Linked DNA regions of Homo sapiens: regions 1 and 3 are each linked to region 2. Evidence: fine-mapped QTL for protein levels in blood plasma. A gene starts in region 2. Each other region holds a variant in brackets. All regions are shown on one strand. Distances are from middle to middle. Region 1 overlaps LUZP2 (leucine zipper protein 2). Region 2 holds the start of LUZP2 (leucine zipper protein 2). Region 3 overlaps LUZP2 (leucine zipper protein 2).

Evidence for each region. PIP is the chance, under the fine-mapping model, that this variant and not a neighbour inherited with it causes the effect. Protein levels are from antibody-based Olink assays in UK Biobank. Linkage for the fine-mapping came from a reference panel and not from the study's own genotypes, which makes the PIPs less certain.
Region 1: its variant is fine-mapped to the plasma level of the LUZP2 protein (UK Biobank, PIP 0.99).
Region 3: its variant is fine-mapped to the plasma level of the LUZP2 protein (UK Biobank, PIP above 0.99).

The regions. Positions count from the first base shown.
Region 1 is chr11:24,513,225-24,521,417 of GRCh38, forward strand. All of the region lies in intron 1 of LUZP2 (leucine zipper protein 2), which reads left to right. Among named protein-coding and RNA genes, the nearest start is that of LUZP2, 20 kb to the left of the region's middle. The variant T/C (reference allele first, on the strand shown) is at 3,509.
Region 2 is chr11:24,492,187-24,500,379 of GRCh38, forward strand. LUZP2 (leucine zipper protein 2) reads left to right here and starts at 4,867. Exons shown (of 12, transcript NM_001009909.4): 1 at 4,867-5,119. The coding sequence starts at 5,058.
Region 3 is chr11:25,023,696-25,031,888 of GRCh38, forward strand. All of the region lies in intron 9 of LUZP2 (leucine zipper protein 2), which reads left to right. Among named protein-coding and RNA genes, the nearest start is that of LINC02699, 430 kb to the right of the region's middle. The variant T/A (reference allele first, on the strand shown) is at 4,587.

The DNA.
Region 1 (8,193 bases), 21 kb after region 2:
TATTTGCTGACATGCAAAATAGCTAAAAATTAAGTCCCCCTTGCCTGTTTTTGGATTCACAAAAGACTTGATCATATCTTAGCTAAAAACATCTATATTTGAAAGAAAAGCTACAGAGTCATATGATGGTTAGCCTTCATCCTTTAGCAGTCGTTGGTAAGGTTTTATTTCATTTTTACAATCAGCATCAAGAGAACGATATAGATGAGCTTTATCCTGGGATAATGACTATGTCTTAAACTATTTTCAGATATTATGAAAACATTAAAATATCAATAGCCACTTTAAAATTGTGTTGCTGTTTTGACTGTCTCCTTAAATAATTAGAAGGGTAAATATTCTTTTTGAATATTCTTAGGATCTATATAATACGTGACTCATATGGTTTTTCCTGTGTCTACTTTCTGACTGTCATTACTTATAGCTACAGTAAGTTGCAGGGCCATGCTTTGGGCACTATACTCTGATTCTAAAGCCTGGGGTGTGCCATGGAAAATCAGTCAATGAATTCCATTAATACCAAACAATCACTAAATGCTGGTAGAAATGAATACCTTACTCTTCTGGAAGATCACCACCTTTTGTCTCTCTTTGACCTTTCAGAGTCTGAATGTAGACAGTGTTTATCTCAAAGAAGTGATGAAAAGTTGACAGGCTGGGAAAATAAGAGTTGCCAAACAGAATGCTAATTGGAGGACCACGTAAGCATGGAACGGATTTAATGTTTTGAAGTGTCCAAGTGTAGTGCATTCTGCAAGCATAGTTAGGATTCCCTGGCTATGTTCTATAATAAGAAGCTGATCTGGCTGGGGATACAAGCAGACCTCTGGAAAATAAAATGTCTTAAAGATGAGTGGTACCCCTAAACAGTGCCCATAAACAGAAGCATGTGGCATATCCCTGGCATTCAGCAAGGGGCTGTGGAAGAGGAGTCTTGATTGGTGGGAGAGAAATCCTCCACTGAATGCAGAGAGTAACTAGTTGGTTGTGTGTGTGTGTGTTTTCTTTTCTGGCAATTAAAAATTTCAAGACAAAGTGGCAGAGAAAAAGAGAGAAAGAAATAGATGGTGATGATCAGTCTTTGGTTCCTCATCCATGGTGAAACTGAGAGCATTCTAGCATAAGAATGGTTTCAGAATAAGTAATTTGCTTTACAATTCAGTGATCCTGAACAAATAAACTGTATCCACATCTCAGAGCAGCTGAGAAGGAGAGCAGCCCTGAGGCATTACAGCACAGAATGAGGAAGGTATATTGTAGTATTAAGGGAAAACACATAATAAGATCGTGCCTCTCCTTCTATCAAGCCCACTTGTCAATGGAATGATTATAAATTTCACTTTGTGGGGAATTGCAGGGTACCATCGTCATACAGAACCAACTGAATGGATGTTCTTTGTTTATGTAAATAAACTTTGTTAACATAATTTTCTTAATTTATTAGTTTTTTTTCTTTTGATATTCCCAAGTGTGAGAAAAGAAGGTTATGACAACACAGCAATAAGATTACATGAATCTATTTATCAGGGCAATTGTTAAAAGAATTCTCCCCACTGGTGTTGAAGAAAGAAATATAGTAAGACTTAGTCCTTGAGGTGAGGGCTGTTCTGTAAAAGCGGCCTGGCTCAAGGAAAGCTAAATTCACAAAACTGCTGGTTGGTTCAGGATCAAGCTCTTTAGGGTAGGAGACTTTTTACATGACTTTAGGTCAGAGGTCCTAAAGAGGAGAGTAAATGAATTATTGTTAGTAAGACCAAAGGGTGTGGTGAACAATCGTTGTCATTGAAACCTCTGCTGATTTGAGCTCTTAATGCTTGCAAGTGAAGGACGCTAGAAGGTCTATTATTTACCATTTCCCCGATTTCAGGGCAGAGTTTAGAACCGGAAAGTTCATAATAACTTCTTGGAAATTAACTAAGTCCTCTGATGTAGGAGTTACACAATCATCTAGAATGTTATTTTTATTTTTTCCTGAGGCAGATTATAAAACCGTATACTGTGCCTAGCATGTGTGAGGTAAGAGGAGAGAAGTGGTATTCTAGGAATACTACACATCCTCTGTAACTTACTCTCTTCCTACAGAAGTTTAGTCTACTGAGCTGAAAGACCCCATCTGTAAATGACACTTTTTACAACCAGCAAGAGGGATAACTTGGCAATTGGTTGGTTTATAGCAATTAAGGATATATAAATTAATTCAATTAATATTCACAAAGAACTTGATATCTATCAGGGAATATGCCAGGAAATAATGTTAAGTGCTTGGGAGCCCAGATGCATTAAAGAAAATACATCCTTCATAGAAGGAGAGGGAGACAAAAAGTGCAAAGAGTAAAGTTTCCCAGCTCTGGGAATAGCTGTGTAAGGTGTCACAGAAGTAATGACTTTCCTATGGGTTTCAAAACGTAGACGGAACTTTTTAGCCAAAAATTTTTGCTTGGGAAAACAAATTCCAGGAAGAGAATAGCAATGTGAAAGGTGCTAAAATAAAATAATAATAATGACAGAACTAATCATAGGCTCTCCAGTAGTGAACAAGCACTGACTAATATGTATGTAAAAACAGCAGGCTCTGTGCATCAGGGTGGGTTTACCTCTGTGGTACAACCTGTGCTCCAGAGCTCCCCTAGGGACTGGGTAAAGCTATTCTGCTGGGACCACTTCCTTGCTGAATTTTTTGTCCTGTCATGTTTTTTTTCTTTCTTATGAAAGTTCTCATTTATCCCTGATAAATCAGCTTTCCAAAGGAGGCCCTGATTATGCTCTGCTTCTGTGAAAACTGACCTGAGACAGAGGCTGATCCACCTGGATTTGAATCCCCGTCTTCCACATGACTAGTTATGTGATTTTGGATGGGCTGTTGAAAATTTCTTATAGTAGATTTTTTTTTTCAGTTAAATTGGGAAAATAATCAATCTCGAAGACCTGTTTTGAAGATTAACAGATTAACAGATTTTAAAGACCTGACACTTACACTTGATTAATATATGTTACTTTTCTTTCCTGTTAATTTGTGGAAATGAATGTAAAACCTAAAATTATTTGTATGGAATTTGGATAGGTCTTATATGAATATGAAATTCTATGACCACTTGTCAATCTGAAATAATTGAAATAATCAGAATCCAGTTTTAATGAGTTTATTCAAGTAAAAATCTGGGAATAGCCACCCAGGTTACAGGGACTCCAGAGAAATGGGATAAGTGCTCCAAAGCTAAAAGTTAAAGTTGTGCTTACATAGGAAGAAAACAAAGACATATAACAGGATTACAACATTTTCTACACAAGGCTGATTTATGAGTAACAACATTTTAATTGGTTAAAGTTTGTTTTCTTTTTTGTGTGGCTGGTTTTCTTTACAATTTAAAAGTGTATATTTAACATTCCATCTTAAGACAATATGACAGCATGAAGTTTTTCTGTGAGAAAGGTAAGAGAGAAGTTAATCTAAAATGAAGATCAGCCCTGAAGAGGGAAGAGGTCTTTCCTGGTGCTGTGTAGTCATTTG[T/C]AATATTTTACAAAACAATGTAGGTAAGGAAGAAGGCAAATCTATAATTAGAGAAACAAAAATTACAGTTTTCTAGGTTACAGCTGCCTAGGTAACAGCTGCCTGTTTATGTGACTTATGTCCCATAATCACATTCCCTTAAGGCTATAAAATTTAGTTTCAACAGCTTAGATTGTGAGTTACTTATTTTTACATACTCAAGAAATAAACTCTGTGATACAATCTATGTGCCAAGCTCTCTATGTGGCTTTATTTCCAGGTTTGATAATTTCTTATTACCATCTGTTATTTTTGTCTTTGAACCTTTCCTAATACAAAATACAAAGATTTTTCTTTATCATATTTTTTGTGTTCTAAGTTGAAACATATGCATGAAATCTTATTTGAAATCTTAATTGAAACATGAATAAGATAATCTTATGTCACCTGTCCAAAAAACTATTGCTAAAGGTTAAAAATATTGTAGGTACAGGCCGGGCACGATGGTTCACGCCTGTAACCCCAGCACTTTGGGAGGCCAAGGTGGGCGGATCATGAGGTCAGGAGATCGAGACCATCCTGGCTAACACAGTGAAACCCCGTCTCTACTAAACATACAAAAAGATTAGCTGGGCGTGGTGGCGGGTTCCTGTAGTCCCAGCTACTCGGGAGGCTGAGGCAGGAGAATGGCGTGAACCTGGGAGGCGGAGCTTGCAGTGAGCCAAGATCCCGCCACTGCACTCCAGCCTGGGTGACAGAGCCAGACGCCGTCAAAAAAAAAAAAAAAAAAAAAAAAAAAAAATTGTAGGTACATATTAAATTTTATGTAAGTTTTTTATATTTAAAAAATGTTCTATTTATTTTTTCATATATCTAAATAATGACTCCAAAAACATTAATCACTTCAATGAGGGCATCAGTCACGTCACTGATTATTGTAAATTGTGGAGCCAATAATCCATAGTTTGCTTTCTTAAAAATCCATTTTAGAAGGTTGAATTTATCAGATAGTCTGAAGTGTTAAATGAGAGTTTAATCTTGACTTATTGAAAAATGGCATCATTTTGCTTCCCATGGTTATTTTTATATTGTGTCTGAAGAAAGAAAAATCCTTTTGTGTTTCTCATGTTTATGGTGTATAACAGGCTCTTTTTAATTATAGAAAATTCCTGTCTTTTAATCACTGAGAAAACAATTTTCCTCCCATAAAATAATACATTTTTTCATCATTTGGTTTTTAAAATGACATATTCCAGGGATTATTTTTGAAATATTGGATGCTTATCTAACACTATCCATTAAGTTTCTATTCATGTGGAAAATGAAATGGAAATGTAGGAGAAATTATTTTTTAGAGGGAGGGGATAAAAGGCCTATAATTAATCAGCTGTTATTAATGAATAAGATAACATTGAATTCAAACAAATAAAAAATTAGTTCTTAAGTGTTAGGTATGACCTCATTTAATTAAGTTAGATAATTTATATAAATGAGATAATTTAACTTATTTAAAGCTTAGCTAAGTTAAGAGACTTGCTTCATCTAATCCATGAGTCAATGGTAAAATCAGAATTTAAGCTCAGAGCTGCATGAATCTAACATCTAGGTTCTTATAACTTTAGCCATGTTTGTTAAAGATCTTTGATTATTTTTTTTAATGTCTGATATGCCTATTTTCCCCTTGTAACATTGTATATTTACAGTCTGGGCTAACAAGATAACAAGCTATTTGAGGGTGTTTTATCCTTTCTGTAAGTGTTAAATGAGAAATTTCTTCCTCCTTTTTAAAACGAATGGAAGAGAAACTGTTAAAAATTATTAAAGAGTATAGTTACTGAGTGTCCTTAGTCCATAAATAGTTTTTAGAATGTTAAGATGATAACTGAAATATCAGAAGATGATAGTGGGTTTTTATGCACATTTATTAGGGTTGTTTTCTTCTTGATCTTTTCACTGTTTGTGCCTAGTTCAAAGTTAGTCAATAAACAGAACATGGCTTTGTGACCAAAAATTCTCTGAAAAAGAATTTGGAGGAAAGAAACTTTATTCCAGTGAACAGTTTGCAAACTGGGAAGACTGCATAAAACAAAGGGGCATTCCAGAGAGCAAAGAGAGGGTTCGGCTTTTATAGAGAAAGTTTCTATTCAAGTTCCCAATCAAGTCTATTTATGCAAATGAAGGATTCAAACTTGCTTAGTGCTGATTGATTCACAGAGCTGAGTTCTGATTATTTTGATGCAGATCATACTCTATTTGTTGGTTCAGGTGACGTGAACAAGGACAGTCAGCTATGAAAGTCCCAAGTTAGGTAGACGTGTGGGTTTTCTGGAACTGAGTACATGTGTGAGCTCTAGGTAGCAAATGGCCTTTGGGCTCTATTTTAAACTTAGACACTGTTATCCACTCAGGATTCATGTTGAGGGATTGGCTCTTTCACGTTTACAGTTTCATTACTCAGTTTGCTCTCACAGTCATACCATCCTCTTTATATTTTGACTACAAATCTTATTTTCTACTTTGACTTCAGACCATTAGGATTGTATATAAGGACTGTTAACAGTACCCCTCAACCCAACTTTATCTAGAATGAGTCTTGAGCTTTGGAGACTCCTGTACTTGAATGGAGAATACAGCAGGCCATCTGGAACTGTCTAGGAAATCGGATGTAGTTTTAGGGAGAAAGATAAAGTTTTGAATGTAAGATTCATTCCTTGAGATTTTATTGTTTAGTTATGTTTATAATATTTTGTGCTGAAGTCAATTAAACAATTGAAGAAAATAAGTATGAGATCTCCAGAAATGAAATTGTGTGGTGAACACATTAGAAGAGCAGACCTACTATGTCTTCCTCCAAAACTATCTTAGTGAAAAGTCCTTGGGAAAGGGTTTCGCCTTTCATCCAGGATACAGCTTCAGTGAGGCAGTTCTACACATGTACTGGAATTTGCTGTCTTTTCATGTCTTGGTTAATTTGGAATTTCATTTATTTACTATTTTGATGTGAAGAATTGCACTTCAGATTTTAGTAAATTATTGCCATGTCAATATAGTTGCATTCTAATGATAATATGCATCTTTTTTAAAAAAGGCTTTTTTCAAAATAATTTTGCTTCATGATTAATTTGTGATTGCACATAATTTTCATAATTTTAGTTCAGACAATCTTTAGACATGAAGATACTTGTTGACAGCACAGTACCTTTGTTCCTCTCTAGTAACTCAATATAACAACATCAGCAAATATTGGTATGAGTTACTATTATTAATGATTTATTTTCATAATCTGATTTCTTTTATTTCATTAGTTGCCTTGGGTTTTTGTCTGATTTCAGAAGCTACATAGCTATGTGATTTTTAAAATGGCATAATAAAGCATAAAATCCACAAGATCTTTAGTTTTGGAGAATTTTGAATGGGAGAATTTTGAAGATTGACCTGTGTACCCTTAAAAGGGGAAATCAGGTAGAAAGACAGCTGTCAAGAAGATGCAATGGAATTATTACCAACAGAATTGAATAAAACACATTTTACAAAAAAAGGTTAATATCTACTCTAAAACGCACTAGTGTATGACCGAAAAGCAATATTTGGAAATGGAACTGTTATCAACAGGAAAAACAGGGAAGGATTTAAAAAATGACTGCAATAAATACTTATGTCTGTAGTTGCATTTGGACACCATTTTGAAGGAACCCCTTCCACAGAAACCAGATGTGATTTCTGTTTTTCTGTCTGGAGAAAGCACACATATAATGAAAAGGTTGTATAATTATTGCACTTGTACAGAAGAATCTTCTCATGTAAATTTAAATTTCAATAAGTTGCTGGATTAAACTTTAGCAAGGGAAAGGAAATTGTAAAACGTGGTCTTGTCTTTCATTCACATGTTTGTGTTAGTATGTTAATTATCCTTTTTGGGGGCAGGAGAAGTACAATGAAGCATAGGCCAGCATAAATGCTACTTATACAGGAACCAATACCAGAGCCAGACTAGGCTTAGGAAACCTTAATGGTACATTTAGATAGATAATTGCCATAGCAGTGAAACAGTAGAAACTTATTTTTTGTCAGTGCAAAGCAGGTTTACTAATTACCAGTCCCAAGAGAGGACTCCCATTGCATGGGGAATAGCAAAGATCATCCTTAGGCCAACCACCAAAAACTCAACCAAGGGTTTTCCAGGGTTGCAGACAAGTCAAGAGAGTGGATATGATGCCTCAGTCCGCACCATCATTAGCTCCAGAGGGAAATAGGACAATGCGTGTTTTTAGTTCCCTAGATATGTATTTCTATACTTTAATATTTCTGTGAATGGGTGTTGCCATTTGGTGTAATCTTTTAGGAAAACAGATTGTGTGGCTGGGCGTGGTGGCTCACGCCTGTAATCCCAGCACTTTGGGAGGCCAAGGTGTGCGGATCACCTGAGGTCAGAAGTTTGGGACCAGCTTAGCCAACATGGTAAAACCCCATCTCTACTAGAAATGCAAAAGTTAGTCAGGCATGGTGGCGTGGGCCTGTAATCCCAGCTGCTCAGGAGACTGAAGCAGGAGAATTGCTTGAACCTGGAAGGTGGAGATTACAGTGAGCTGAGATCATGCCATTGCACTTCAGCCTGTGTGACAGAGCGAGACTCCATCTCAAAAAAAAAAAAAAAAAAGGTGGGGGTGGGGTGGGGTAAGAAAATAGATTGTTTTAGAGTAATATAA
Region 2 (8,193 bases):
GCAACATGAAAGTTAAACAGAGAAAAAAAGGAGGCATGTATTGGTTTTCTTATTTGAGAGTAATTTTCTAGGAGATTTAAGATTATAACGATATTTGCAGTTTAGATAGATTATACAAGGGGAATAGTTTTGAGGAAAATCCATCTTAAAGTAAAAAGTACACTCCGAATCAAGAGATGGTTACCTCTAATTAAAGCCCAGATGACAGGTGTCATATAGAGGTGGGACAATTGTTATAAATAAATACTTAGGAAGTGAAATCTCTAGGGCTTGGTGATTGACTATATGTGGGAGAAGGTGGAGGTAAAAGCAATAGACAACTCTCAGGTTTAAACTTGGGTGACTGAGTTGATGGAAGTATAAGGAGATATACCGAAGAAGGGTCAGACAGAGGAAGAATGAGTAAGTGTTCAATGTGATTGAATTTGACTTTGAGGTATTCATATAGAACCCAGGTAAAGTCTCAGCGAGGAAGTCTAGGCTGGGGTAAATTTTAAGATCCATACCATAGTGAAGATTGTAAAAACCATAAAAAATAATAAGTTCAACTTGGGAAGAAAATATAGAATTTTAAAAGAGGAGGATCAAGGATGAAACACTAGGGGACATGAGAGTTTAGAATATGAGGGCAGAAAACAGAACAGAAATAAGAAAAAATGTATTACTGTGTGAAGAATGAAATAAGAGGGGCATTAAATTGTGGAAACATAACCTTTCTAACAAATATTGCTAGGAGAACTTGATACCCACATGCAAACAATGGAGCTGAGCCCCTCCTTCACAAATACACAAAAGTTGGATTCACAGACCTATCTTTAAGATCTAAAACAATAAAAATCTTAGAAGAAAACAAAGGCATACATATTCATAACCTAGTGTGAGGCAAAGCTGTCTTAGATACAACCTCAGGAGTATAATCATAACATTCAAAGTAGGTGAATTGAACTTTATCAAAATTAAAAATATTTGTGGTGCAAATGACACCAACAGGAAAGTGAAAAGAAAATCCATGGATTAGGAAACATTTGCAAATCACATATCTAAGGGGGATTTGTACCCATTATATAGACAGAACTCTTACTAGGCAAAAATAAAACTCAAAAATTAATTGAAAAAATAATTTAATAAATGTATCTTCAAAAATGTGTATGAATAGCTAGTACGCACATGAAAATATGTTGATAGTGATTATCAGATAAATGCCTATAAAAATGAGATAAGACTTCACATCAGCTAAGATGGCTATAATAATAAAAGGATAGATAAATAATTGCAACTAACAAGTTTAAGGTTGTAAAGAAATCGATACCTTCATATATTACTAATGAAAATGTAAAATGGTGCAGCTATCTTGAACAAGAGTTTGGCAGTTTCTCAAAATGTTAAATGTAGAGTTACCATATGATCCAGGAATTCCACTTCTAGGTATATATCCAAGAGAACTGAAAACAGATGTTCACACAGAAACTTTTATGTGAATGATCATAGCAGAGTTTTTCATAATAGCGAAAGTATGAAAACAACCATAATATCCATTAACTGATGGATGGATAAACAAAATGTGGTATACCCTTACAATGGAATATTATTCAGCAATAAAAAGAAATTAAGTAACGATATATGCTATAATACAGATGAACTTTAAAACATGAATGTGAAAGAGAGTAGTTATATGAAACCAGATACAGTATGATTTAATTTATATGAAATGTCAAGATTTGGGTCAATCCATAAAGAGAGAAATTAGATTGGTGTCTGTGGGGGTTCAGGAGAAGGGATAAAGTGGGGACCAGTGAGTGATTACTCGTAGGTACAGGATTTCTTCTGGGCATGATGAAAATGTTCTGGAATTATATAACGATGATGATTTCATAATCTTATGGATGTGTATAAAAGCACTAAATTACACACTTTAAAATGGTGAAGTTCTTAGTACCTGAATTAAATCTCAATAAAGCTGTTTTTAAAACAGCTTCTATATCTCCTAATCCTAGCACTTTATAGAGACTCAGCACAACTGCTTGGGTTTTCTTGATGTTCTTTTTCAGACTTGGGTACAGTTACCACAAACAATGCTTGCTGACTCCAGTGTTAGGACTCAGCATAGGATAAGTAGTTTAAGATAAGTGAATTGCTATCTGTACTAATGTATCTTTAAAATTCATCTACCAATTCTCCAAAGCCACAAAATTTATTCTGAATTTAGGTTTTTATGTGACAATGTGGACAGAATGTCATGGGTGATGGAGATTCCTGGTTTTGTAATTTTCCTAGAAGAAAAGACTTCTGCTGAGAGACACATCTGTACTTGAATTCAAAATAATACTTCAATTCTCTACATCTGTGGGAGTTTCCAGAATCTTACTTATACCTTTCAAGATGTACTCCCCTACTATGTTGCTCTCATGCCCTTCCAAGTTAGATGTCTTTTGGAGAGATTTTTTTTTTTTTCTTTTTGGCTTGCAGTAAATGCACAAAGGCCAACAAACTTTGTGGTTCTTTATAGATATCCAATATAGATACAGTGTAAAGAAAGTTCATTCTGACTTTTTTATTCATTGATATTAGATAATTTGGTTGTTGTTTTATGTTATATGTCTAGTTGAAAGTAAAAAAAACTTAGGTTGGGGAAAGTTTTTTCTTACATGTGTATAATGTTTTTCTCTCAAATAAGCATACATTTTGAAGTAATGCAGACTGAATTTGAATGCCATCGCCACTATATAAGTCTCTGAGTGACCTTGAGCAAGTTACTTAACTACTCTGAAACTGTCACCTTAACTGGAAAAGAGAAAAATACTAGAAATAACTACCACATTTGGTTTCTATGATTAGGACGTAAGATAATGGATGCAAAGTTGTTATATAAAAAATGTATTCTACAAATATGAGTGTTATTTCCTGGTGCACACATTAAAAAAATTGCCAAGTAGCCTTATGTCTTTGTTGAGTATACAACTCAAGTAATCTCCTTCAAAGTGAGCAGGGAATCTATGTTAGAAAACCCTGGCAGGAGCAAACCAGAGTTTTTATTTTACTTGGAATCAGAGTTCTGTTTTAGAAAAGTGTGGTGTCGTTTTTTTCTCTTAAATGATATGCAATTCACATGTTAGTTTATTTGTATATGCCTACTTATTAGGCATATACAAGATCGATAATGTTGTGGATCTTATTATTATTGCCCAAGGGGCTAATATTCACTTTTCAAAACTTATTACTCATCTAGTTCAGCAGCTCAAGATTTTGAAGCAAATCTGTTTTACATACATGTCTTAACCTTCAATCCCATTTAAAAAAAATAGTAAATTAGATGGTTAACCTTTTAGATTTGCATCCTCTTTAAAATAAAGCTTTACAGCAAATGCATTTTTCCTACAAATGTCTTCGAAAATGAGATTGAAGAGGATGTATCATCTAAATTTTTCTGTAAAGAGCTTGCCCCCGAAATAATTGGAACATGAACTGAAACCTCTAGATAGGAATTCCTGGACACAGCTGTCCATTATCTTTCGGGACTTTGGTGCACCTCACCCTTTACTGAACACAACTTTGTGTCAAACACTGGGCTAGGAGTGCTAGTTGTGATGTTTGAGGCAACAGTGGAATTTTTCTTAGGACTTAGTAGAACCAGTTCTTTTTTTTAATATGCATAGTCAGATTTTGATGATATTCAGTCTGCTCATATCTATAATAGTGATATTAACGTCTATTTCACTAGGATGGCTCTTGTGAAGATTAAATTAAATACTGTATGAAGAAGTGCCTTATACACAGTTATATAACCAGGATAATATCCAGATGGAATTCTCATTCTCTCTCTCTCTCTCTCTCTCACTCTCACTCACACACACACACACACACACACACACACACACACACATGCAATATCATCTTATAAATATCCTAGAATTGAATATCTCAGTAGCAGAGATAGTAGTTCTGTTTCTCAGAATTGCTTTTGCAAAATGGTGTTTTGGATTATAATTGTGCTATTTAATTTTTCTAATTAAAATTTCTAAATAGAGCCTATTAAATATTGGATGCTTATGATAGAACATTTGAAAATATAGAAAACCAAATGACCTACAAAACCTCTACCTTCCAGTACCATCATTCCGAGCTGATTACTGTTAACATTTTAATGGTTTTTGTCCGCTAGGTCTCCTTGATGAGTTTCACCTGAGGAAAAGGACTCCTTCAGGTGTGTGAACTTGAGCCACCAGGTCCAACCCCATTGGCAGGTGCTGGTACAGACGACTGAAATCAGAGGAAGATCAGAAATCTTCAAAACCCAGAGCAGCAGATGTCTTAACGGTCCCGAAACGTTCTTTGGTTCTTTGCAGTCAACATTCACGGGTTAAGAAGATTGCAATGCCATGACGGGCTGAGGTTGCATTTCTGGACGCTGCTTACTCCCGCTTCCTTCCATCTGTTTCAGGCAAATCATTATGCAGTTCTAATTAGAACAATCTTCTAAACACTCTCTCCAGAGCGACGTTCTTCCAAACACGGTTTAAGCGGCGAGAGACACCTGCCTAGGACCCTACGCGTCTGGAAGTCTCTCCCAGTGAATTGGGTCTCATCTCCTGCCGAGTACGCAAGTTCAATTATCGGCAGATTAGGTTTCTACTCTCCGTGCCCCGCCCCGCGCCATCCTGGGGAGCAGCGGGAATAAATGATCCGCCCCTGGCCAGTGCTCACCCGACTGACCAGAGCGCAGCCCGGTGACCGAAGCGCACGGGGCGATCGCGAGGCGCCCCCTCCCTCTCCCCGCGCCGCCTCCAGCGCGAGTGACGGCGCGCCCTCCGGGCTCCGGAGCGGCGGCGCCGAACAATCCCCGGCAGGGCTCGCCTCGCCGGTGACATCACTCCTGAAGATACTCCTCGCTCCCAGCGCCTGCCTTCCCCAGGCGTCCGTTCGTGTGCCCGTCTCCGCCTTTCCGCCTCGGAAGAGCGCTCATCACTGGCTGGGGACAGAGCCGGGCACCAAGGAGCGACAGGATCCCGAAGAGAGAGAGAGAAGGCAGCGAGGGAAGGAGGACCCCGGCAGGCAGCAGCATGAAATTCAGCCCAGCGCACTACCTGCTGCCTCTCCTGCCTGCGCTGGTCCTCAGCACCAGGTGAGTCCAGGAGCGTGAGTGACCTGAGGCCAGGGGCGCTGCCGGGGCGAGGTTGGTCCTACTGTGGGTCACCAGTGGGGGCCAAGGCACTTCAGCTGTTTGCATCTCCCGCCTAAGCAAGAGGGACGCTGTATGGTTTGGGCTCTGAAATCCTTCTGAGAGAGCAGAGCCCTTTCCTAGTTATCCCAGCCCCCTGGAGAAAGTCTTAGGATTGCTCTCAGTGAGGGATCAAAAGCTTTCTCTTCCGAAGGAGAGAAAAGACATTTTACCCTCCGGTCCTATTAGTAGCCAAAAGGTAACACGCGGTAAAAGAACAAAATAAAGAACGGAAATAGGCAAGGAGGGAATTGCCACCAGGCAGTGTCTTTACATTGGAGTTGTCTTAATAACCATAGAGCTTCTCCCTTCCCCCAAGTGTGCCTGATTTAAGGAAGAGGAAACCAGAGAAAACAGATTAATCCTGGAAGATGCTAAGACTTGTACAAAAGTTCCTGGACTCCTGAAATGGCATGTTTCAACGTCTTGGATAAGCTTAGTGATAGGCGTTTTCTTTTGACTGTCTTGTGAACAGGTCTAATTAAAGAGCACAGAAGGCGATTAAAAGTTAGAAGACACTCTCAGAGTGCTGATGCAGAGACCCTAGTCAGAAACAATTAAGTACTGTACTCCATCACTGGCCATGGATGGGACTTTAAGCCCCATTACAGAGGAGCTATTTTTGGTGGAGATTTAAAATGCAGAGATTGAGAAGAGTTTTGTGACTCCCCACTGTTGATCAAGTCCCAAAGTTGTGATGGGTTTGCTTTTTTCTTCCACAAGCGCAGCACAAAGGTGGACTGTTTAGTTGCCCAGGACTGTCTTTATTCTGCATGCCCTTAGCATCATATTGGCAGCAACCTCTTTCCCTTGGCTACTATAAAATAAAATAACCCACACAGGATGAAGATCCTTTCAAGTCTACGTGAATAGAAACATTATTTGATTGTGCATCTGATGGCAAATAAAGTAGGGATATAGGGTTGTTTCTAATTCTGAAATGGAAAAGGATGAAGAAAACTTACTCTGTCTTACAAATCAAGGCTGTAAAATTCTTGATTCCGTTCCTAATCTACACACCTTCTTTCAGGCCTGTGTAACCAAACTTTCCTTTTAGTGTAGAGACTATTTCATTTACCCTCAATAATTGATAAATTTAGTCTTTCCTTGCAAACAAAGCCCAGGTGACTTTCCCAGATTAAAATGAAATGTAAGTTTGATTCTTCATTTTCTGTAAGGTTTGCTTGTCACTTCAGCTCATAAAGTGCAGATGGTTTTAAAGAAAACCAGTTTGCTTCCCAGTATTATAATTAGTTGCTCTAAATACAGAGCCCATTTTAATATTTGTGGTTAGCTCTCAACAGTTCAATACAAATTATGCATCACAGTTATTCTTTAAATTCTTGCCATTCACTCTTATGTTGTGATTTAGTCTTCTAGAGAAAGGAAATTTTCTAACTTTGGACACTTAAGTAGATGACAGTCAACACATGCATAAATAATAGGAAATATTTAAACAATAGAAATCCAGCCCACAGTGATTTTAGACTGTGAACATCTCTAGAGTTCCAAAAGTACATTTGCTTTTTAAGGATACTATAATTAAATTGAATGAAAAAGCTCTATAGTCTCTAGCGTCCAAAGATTTAATGTTCGATATCTAATACAGGGTCAAAAAGCCATTATCTTTTCCTTTCATGAAAGTGTTGATTTTGATAGGGATAAATTTCTTTAAAAATAGTTAACACACTTATTACAACAAAAACTGGAATAATCATCTATTTCACTTTAGCTTTGAAACTTCTGCAATGCTTGTGGTATGTGAAAACTATGGTTATTAAATTTTACCAGAAGAGAATGCTGGGCTTGAAAAAGATGAAATATTTATAATAAGTAGCATATCTTATTAATGTGATTACTCTGTAGGAATTCATTTTACTGGATACCCAGAATACCCTGTGATATTGAACAAATATGAAAAGCAATGCGGTACTATCAGTGTCATTTTGCAAAGAAGAGAATATGTTTTAAAGATCTCTAACAGAAGGCCATTCTGTGTATAATATTTAACAGTTCTTATAGGCACATGGTTATTGTGCAGATTAGAACCTAAACTGAGCAGCTTTGAAAGGACAGTTGTGTTAGTAGGGATGAGCTTATTGTCCTGCTGGGAAAAGCTGAGTAGCTCAGCCATGGCCACCTGGGACAGTGGGTTTTCTGGCCAAAGACTTCTGTTAACTTAGTTTCTTAGTCAGTAGTCCTGTATGTGAAGCAAATGGTATTTCACATGTTTAGATCACGCTGGATGCATTAGCAGGTGGTGGTAATTGCTAGTTTTTCCTATAGCCTTTGGGTAATCTCACCTGTCTTTTATTGTCAAACTCTTTCCAAAGTGTAGGGAATGCAGAGCGGAGACTCTTAATGCAAATATATATATATATTTGTTTCATTATATCTTTCTCTGAGTGCATTGCCTTAATACTTTGCTATTTTATTTCCAATAGGTCTGAAGTTCAGTTCTATTTTAAAGTAATCTGTTCAGTGAAACAAATGCTGCAGGTGAAAAGGTAGTCTTTTGACTGTGTTGTGAACAGGTCTAATGGTATCTAGCCCACAGCGACTATCCTGTCTTTTAAACAGAAATTTTTGAATAGAAAACAATCCTGCCTTTTAAATAGACATTTTTGAATAGCTTTCTCTTTTTGCTTGTTCCTCCTTCTCACCTTTTCTGAAGCAACTTTAGATGCTGAAGCACAAAATCCCATAATTTAATCACAGTGAACATCAATGGCCCCCAATCAGAGTTAATGTATTTGTCCTGAAAGAAAGCTAAATGTTCAATTTACACAAAAGCCAAGCATTTTTCTCTGTTTTACTGGTAAACCCCATAGAGTTTTAAAAAACGAACAAAGAAAAAGAGCTGTTTAATGTCCTGGCATATGGTCTCTCCTGCTTAGAAAATGCATATAAATTACCAAAAAAAATCAAGTTAATGATATGAATAATGTAACTAATACAGAAACTCATTTAAACTGTAC
Region 3 (8,193 bases), 530 kb after region 2:
TGCTTCTCTAGTTATTTTAATTGTGATGTTAGGGTGTCAATTTTAGATCTTTCCTGCTTTCTCTTGTGGGCATTTAGTGCTATACATTGCCCTCTACACACTGCTTTAAATGTGTCCCAGAGATTCTGCTATGTTGTGTCTTTGTTCTCATTGGTTACAAAGAATATCTTTATTTCTGTCTTCATTTCGTTATGTACCCATTAGTCATTCAGGAGCAGGTTGTTCAGTTTCCATGTAGTTGAGTGGTTTTGAGTGAGTTTCTTAATCCTGAGTTCTAGTTTGATTGCACTGTGGTCTGAGAGACAGTTTGTTATAATTTCTGTTCTTTTACATCTGCTGAAGGGTGCTTTACTTCCAACTATGTGGTCAGTTTTGGAGTAAGTGCGATGTGGTGCTGAGAAGAATGTATATTCTGTTGATTTGGGGTGGAGAGTTCTGTAGATGTCTATTAGGTCTGCTTGGTGCAGAGCTGAGTTCAATTCCTGGATATCCTTGTTAACTTTCTGTCTCGTTGATCTGCATTCCCTTTGAAAACTGGCACAAGACAGGGATGCCCTCTCTCACCACTCCTATTCAACGTAGTGTTGGAAGTTCTGGCCAGGGCAATCAGGCAAGAGAAAGCAATAAAGTGTATTCAATTAGGAAATGAGGAAGTCAAATTGTCCCTGTTTGCAGATGACATGATTGTATATTTAGAAAACCCCATCGTCTCAGCCCAAAATCCCCTGAAGCTGATAAGCAACTTCAGCAAAGTCTCAGGATACAAAATCAATGTGCAAAAATCACAAGCATTCCTATACACCAATAACAGACAAACAGAGAGCCAAATCATGAGTGAATTCCCATTTACAATTGCTTCAAAGAGGATAAAATACCTAGGAATCCAACTTACAAAGGATGTGAAGGACCTCTTCAAGGAGAACTACAAACCACTGCTCAACGAAATAAGAGGACACAAACAAATGGAAGAACATTCCATGCTCATGGATAGGAAGAATCAATATTGCGAAAATGGCCAAACTGCCCAAGGTAATTTATAGATTCAATGCCATCCCCGTCAAGCTACCAATGACTTTCTTCACAGAATTGGAAAAAACTACTTTAAAGTTCATATGGAACCAAAAAAGAGCCCGCATCACCAAGTCAATCCTAAGCCATAAGAACAAAGCTGGAGGCATCACGCTACCTGATTTCAAACTATACTACAAGGCTACAATAACCAAAACAGCATGGTACTGGTACCAAAACAGAGATATAGACCAATGGAACAGAACAGAGCCCTCAGAAATAATACCACACATCTACAACCATCTGATCTTTGACAAACCTGAGAAAAACAAGCAATGGGGAAAGGATTCCCTATTTAATAAATGATGCTGGGTAAATTGCCTAGCCATATGTAGAAAGGTGAAATTGGATCCCTTCCTTATACCTTATACAAAAATTAATTCGAGATGGATTAAAGACTTCAATGTTAGACCTAAAACCATAAAAACCCTAGAAGAAAACCTAGGCAATACCATTCAGGTCATAGGCATAGGCAAGGACTTCATGTCTAAAACACCAAAAGCTATGGCAACAAAAGCCAAAATTGACAAATGGGATCTAATTAAACTAAAGAGCTTCTGCACAGCAAAAGAAACTACCATCAGAGTGACAAGCAACCTACAGAATGGGAGAAAATTCTTACAATCTACCCATCTGACAAAGGGCTAATATCCAGAATCTACAAATAATTTAAACAAATTTACAAGAAAAAATCAAACAACCCCATCAACAATTGGGCAAAGGATATGAACAGACACTTCTCAAAAGAAGACATTTATTCACCCAACAGACACATGAAAAAATGCTCATCACTGGTCATCAGAGAAATGCAAATCAAAACCACAATGAGATACCATCTCACACCAGTTAGAATGGCGATCATTAAAAAGTCAGGAAATAACAGGTGCTGGGGAGGATGTGGAGAACTAGGAACACTTTTACACTGTTGATGGGACTGTAAACTAGTTCAACCCTTGTGGAAGACAGTGTGGCAATTCCTCAGGGATCTAGAACTAGAAGTAGCATTTGACCCAGCCATCCCATTACTGGGCATATACCCAAAGGATTATAAATCATGCTGCTATAAAGACACATGCACACGTATGTTTATTGTGGCACTATTCACAATAGCAAAGACTTCGAACCAACCCAAATGTCCATCAGTGATAGACTGGATTAAGAAAATGTGGCACATATACACCATGGAATTCTATGCAGCCATAGAAAGAATGAGTTCATGTCCTTTGTAGGGACATGGATGAAGCTGGAAGCCGTCATTCTGACCAAACTATTGCAAGGACAAAAAACCAAACACTGCATGTTCTCACTCATAGGTGGGAATTGAAGAATGAGAACACTTGGACACAGGGTGGGGAACATGACACACTGGAGCCTGTCATGGGGTAGGGGGAGGGGGGAGGGATAGCATTAGGAGATATACCTAATGTACATAATGAGTTAATGGGTGCAGCACACCAACATGGCACATGTATACATATGTAACAAACCTGCATGTTGTGCACATGTACCCTAGACCTTAAAGTATAATAAAAACATGTAAAAATAAAATAAAATAAGATGAAAAGCAATCATTTGAAGTTATAACAGAAAATTTTGGAATGTATATGAAAATTGAATGCTTAACATTTGGTATTTACAAACTATCCTCTAGAGATAAATTATTAGATTGTGAATACTATTCCTTCTAATATGCTTCAGAGATGCTGTGTTTGGAAAGTAGAGTGTAAGAAATGTAGGTTAAAAGAACTTAAGCTTATTGCCTTAAAATGTGATTATTTTTTTCTAATTAATTTTTACAAATGTCCAGTATTAGCATTGACTAATTAAGGGGTGATTATTTGTGTGGCCTCTATTATTTACTTGCTTTGTTAAATTTGGACAAATTTCTTAAACTCTGGGTTGTAGTTCCCTCATTTTTAAAAGGTAGCATGATTGGTTGCTATGATACAGTGTACACAGTGAACTTATATTTTTCTGACACATGACAAGAGTTCTGTATATAACAACTGTCATTGCTATCCACCCTATCTCCGAGAAAAGAAGAAAAAGTAATTCAGAGGATTTGTTGTACTATTTCACCTTTTTATTTTTTTTATTTTTTTAATTATTATTTTTTTTCTTTCTTTATTTATTTTTTTATTATTATACTTTAAGTTTTAAACCAGTAAAATCTTGACCCTCTCCTAAATTAGATTCACTGTCCCAGATTTTAATTAAACATTTGCCTGTGTTCTTCCATTTGCAAATAATCACCTATGCATACAGATCACAACCATCCACAAACATAATATCAAATGGGTTCCTGAATTATTACAGGATCTTAAATTTTTTAACAATACCATTGTATACAAGCAATATATTTACTGATCATTTCTCAGAAATTATTAGCAAAAGAAAATAAATCATTGCTAAATTAGCTCCTCTAATGTAACAAGGATTTATGTTATTTTGAAATATTATTATACACATTTATTAATAATGGGATAATTCATAATACAGCTTAGTACAGTGATATTTATCTTCAAATCACTTTGGGAGTGCTAATATTCTATTTCTCATGATTAATTTAGAATAATTCTCCTCTTGATTAATAATATGTGTCATCATTTACATTATTTATACTTTATTATCAACTTTATGTTAGTTAAAAATTAAGTTTAGAAGCACCCATAAACTTCTTCATTGTTCTTTTCTCTGCCTTCATAGTTTTTATTTTTAGTCTATATAAAATTTTAACTGAATCATCTGGCCATTGCTGAAGTTACCAGTACGAACTCTATCAGTTATTATTTCTACAGCTGTTGCAATGTTAAAAATTAGCATTTAGGTCGGGCACAGTGGCTCATGCCTGTAATCCCAGCACTTTGGGAGGCCAAAGCAGGTGGATCACGAAGTCAGGAGGTCAAGATCAGCCTGGCCAAGATGGTGAAACCCCATCTCTACTAAAAATAAAAAAATTAGCCGGGCGTGGTGGTGGGTGCCTGTTAATCCCAGCAACTCGGGAGGCTGAGGCAGAGAATTGCTTGAACCCGGGAGGCAGAGGTTGCAGTGAGCTGAGATCACGCCACTGCACTCCAGCCTGGGCGAAAGAACGAAATTCCGTCTCAAAAAAAAAAAAAAAGGTGTTTAGATTTAGATACCATCAATGTTTTCCATTGGCTAGTGGATAAAATCTAAGTTCCCCAGTTCGGAGTTCAAATCTATCAACTAGTATTTGATATAATATACTTTCCGTCTATTGGAACTTGCTACGTGGAGAATATTCATATCCCAGTTTTAACTTTTGATTTATTTTTAATTAATTTTTAATTTGGGGGTACTAGTAGGTGTGTATACTTATAGGTTATACGAGACATTTTGATACAAGCATACAATGCGTAATAGTCACATCAGGGTAAATGGAGTATTCATCATTTCAAGCATTTATCCTTTCTTTGTGTTAATAAACATTCCAGTTATAGTCTTTCATTTATTTTTAAATGTGCAATAAATTATTGTCGACTGTAATCACCCTGTTG[T/A]GCTATCAAATACTAGCTCTTATTCGTTATATTTAACTATATTTTTATACCCATTTCTCATCCCCACTCCCCATGTCCATTACCCTTCCCAGCTTATGGGAACCATCATTCTGAGTGTCCATCAACAGACAAATGGATGAAGAAAATGTGGTGTATATAATAATGAAGGATCATTCAGCCATAAAAAAGAATGAGATTTTTTCATCTGTAACAGCATAGAACTGAAGAACATTATGTTAAGTGAAATAAACTGAGCACAGAAAGACCATCTTTGCACGTTCTCATTTATTTCTGGGAGCTAAAAATTAAAACAATTGAACTCTATGTACTATTTTTAATTAGAAAGTAGAATCGTGTACCATTTTTTATTTCAGTAGAGTAGAATTATGTACCATTTTTAATTTGCATGTTTTTTTTTTTTACTTTCTTTCCATTTTATATTGTTTGATCTGTCTCATTTGAAAATCCAGTTCATCCATAAGATAGTCCTAGGGTCTAGTTTCTAGCCTCAATTCCTCTGTCATATTCCTAAAATTTTTCTTGACTATAATTAATCTTGTTCTTACACACAGTATTTTATATTCTTTAAATCATTTTGCTTATTTGGAAACAAACTATACTATATTAGGCAAAAGGCAAAAGCTAAACAAAAGGCAACAAAGAACTTAAAAGATCATTAAGTGAAATAAGCCAGGCACGGAAAGACAAGCATCACATGTTCTCACATATTTGTGGGATCTAAAAATCAAACAATTGAACTCATGGACATAGAGAGTAGAAAAATGGCTACCAGAGGCTGGGAAGGGTAGTGGGGACCTGGTGGGTAGGAGGAGATGGTTAATGGCTACAAAAAGAAAATAGAAAGAATAAATAAGACCTACTATTTGATAGCACAAGAGGGTGACTATACTCAATAATAACTTAACATATTTAAATAAAGGGTGTAAGAGGATTGTTTGTTACTCGAAGGATAAATGCTTGAGGAGATGGGAACCTTATTCTCCATGATGTGCTTAGTTCACATTGCATGCCTGAATCAAAACATCTCATGTACTCCATAAATATGTACATCTACTAGGTACCCACACAATTTTTAAAAATAAATTTAGAAGAAATAAAAAACAATACTTCAAATATGAACACTCTTTAAAAAAGAAATAAAGAATGTGTAATCGGCTGGGTGCAGTGGCTCACACCTGTAATCCCAGTACTTTGGGAGGCAAGGCAGGCAGATTACTTGAGATCAGTAGCTCAAGCCCAGCCTGGCCAACATGGTGAAACCCCATCTCTGCTAAAATTACAAAAATTAGCCTTGCATGGTGGTGGGCACCTGTAATCCCAGCTACTTGGGAGGCTGAGGCAGGAGAATCATTTGAACCCGGGAGGCGGAGGTTGCAATGAGCCAAGATTTAGCCACTGCCCTCCAGCCTGGATTACAGAGAGAGACTCTGTCTCAAAAAAAAAAAAAAAAGTATAATTATTTCAAGAAGGAAAAAAGTACCTTACATTTTATTTTTTCTCTCATAAAATTTGCTTTACATATACACATTTTTACAGGATACTATTGTATATGTTGTTTTGTGATACATTTTATTTTATAGAAGTATAAACAATTGCCATGTCAATAGATATATTTTGTAACTACCAAGTAATTATTTTTTATTTTTATGTAAGGTGTGTACATAACATAATAAAACAAGCACACATAGATTTACCAACCAACATAACCACATGATTTGGGGCATTATTAAGATTACTGACATTAGATGGGTATTCATGCAAAATGCTTGTCCTAAATTTTGTGTTTATCGTTCCCAACCTTTGTGTGTTTGCATATTTGTGTGCATTTTCTCCCATATACATTTGTCTTTAAGAAATATGGCTAGTATTGATTATTCTGAATTTTATAGAATCAGTAATATTCTCTAATTTTTGGAACTCACATTTTTCACTGAATATTTATTTCAAGGATATCTTTGTTACTGGTAGTTGTAGTTCAATTAATTCTCATTAACAAATTAAAGTATGAGATAATACTGTAATTTATTTCTCTATTCTCCTATTGATAGAAAGGATAATTCAGCTTTTGCTCTTATTAGCAATGCAGCTAAAACCATTCTGTTTCATATCTCTACAAACATAGCCTAGAATATAGAACTAGAAGTGAGTTGTAAGATCAAAGGCCAAGTGTCTATCAACATTAAAGAATATTGACAATTCTTTTTCCAAAAATAGTTATTTAAAATTTATTTATATAAATATTGTGGATGACCACTCTTATTCCATTCCATGTACTCACCAATACTTGTTACTTTAAGCCTTAAATTTTGCTGATCTGCTATAGCATTGTAGCTCACTGGGTCTTAAGTTGCATTTTCTTAATTACATAAGAGATAAAACCATCATTTCCTAATTTAATACATAATTTGTTTTCCTCATTTTGAGATATGACTATGTATTTACCATTTTCTTATTTAAATTTTTTCATTTACCTATTGCTTTATAAGTATTATTTACAAATTCTAAATACTAATCTTTTGATTTGCAAAAAGCTACTCACAATTTGTATGTGTAGCGTGTGTTTGTGTATATGTGTGTTACTATATATATTATATATATATATAATATATATTGTATTATATATATATAATATATATTATATATATTATATATATAATACAATATATATTATATATATATAATACAATATATATTATATATATATATATATATATTTTTTTTTTTTTTTGAGACAGAGTCTCACTCTGTTACCCAGGCTGGAGTGCAGTGGTGTGATCTCATCTCATGCAACCTCCACCTCCCGAATTCAAGCGATTCTTTGGCCTCAGCCTCCTGAGTAGCTGGGACTACAGGCACGTGCCACCACACCTGGCTAATTTTTGTGTTTTTAGTAGAAATGGGGTGTCACCATATTGGCCAGGCTGCTCTCGAACTCCTGACCTTGTGATCCACCTGCCTCGGCATCCCAAAGTGCTGGTATTACAGGCGTGAGCCACCATGCCCAGACTACTGTATTTTTGATACCGTTTGATAAATAGGTTTCCACTATTTCTTCAGTAAATATTGCAAAATTATATTTTTCTTGAAATTTCTCAATTGCTTATGTGTTTTCCAATGGATTTAAAGTTTATGTGGTGTTGCCTTTATGTCTTTTAAACTTCAGCTGCAAACATTTTATGCCAAATTTCTCATTCCAAATAGCTTATTTGTGCCTATCAATATTGCTTGAAAGATGTGTATTATATTGTTTTCAAATTGTTAATTTTTCTGTTTATACTTTTCATTCTAATTTTGTTTTCTATTCCCACAATTTGTGTCCCTCTCTTTACTATCAGCATTTTCTAATTTATTTGAGTTGTTTTCCCAGCTTTTAAATTTTTTTTTGCCTTTTGTTTTTCTTTGATATGGGCATTTAGAAATTATACATCTTCCTACAAAGGGTTACCTTAGCTACATTCCTAACATTTAACATATACCATTGTTATTAGAAATAAAGTTTACAAATTTTTTAAATCCCTTATTATTTCTTCTTGGATGTATAAGTTATTTATAAGTACATTTTAAAATTTACAAATATATGGTGGAT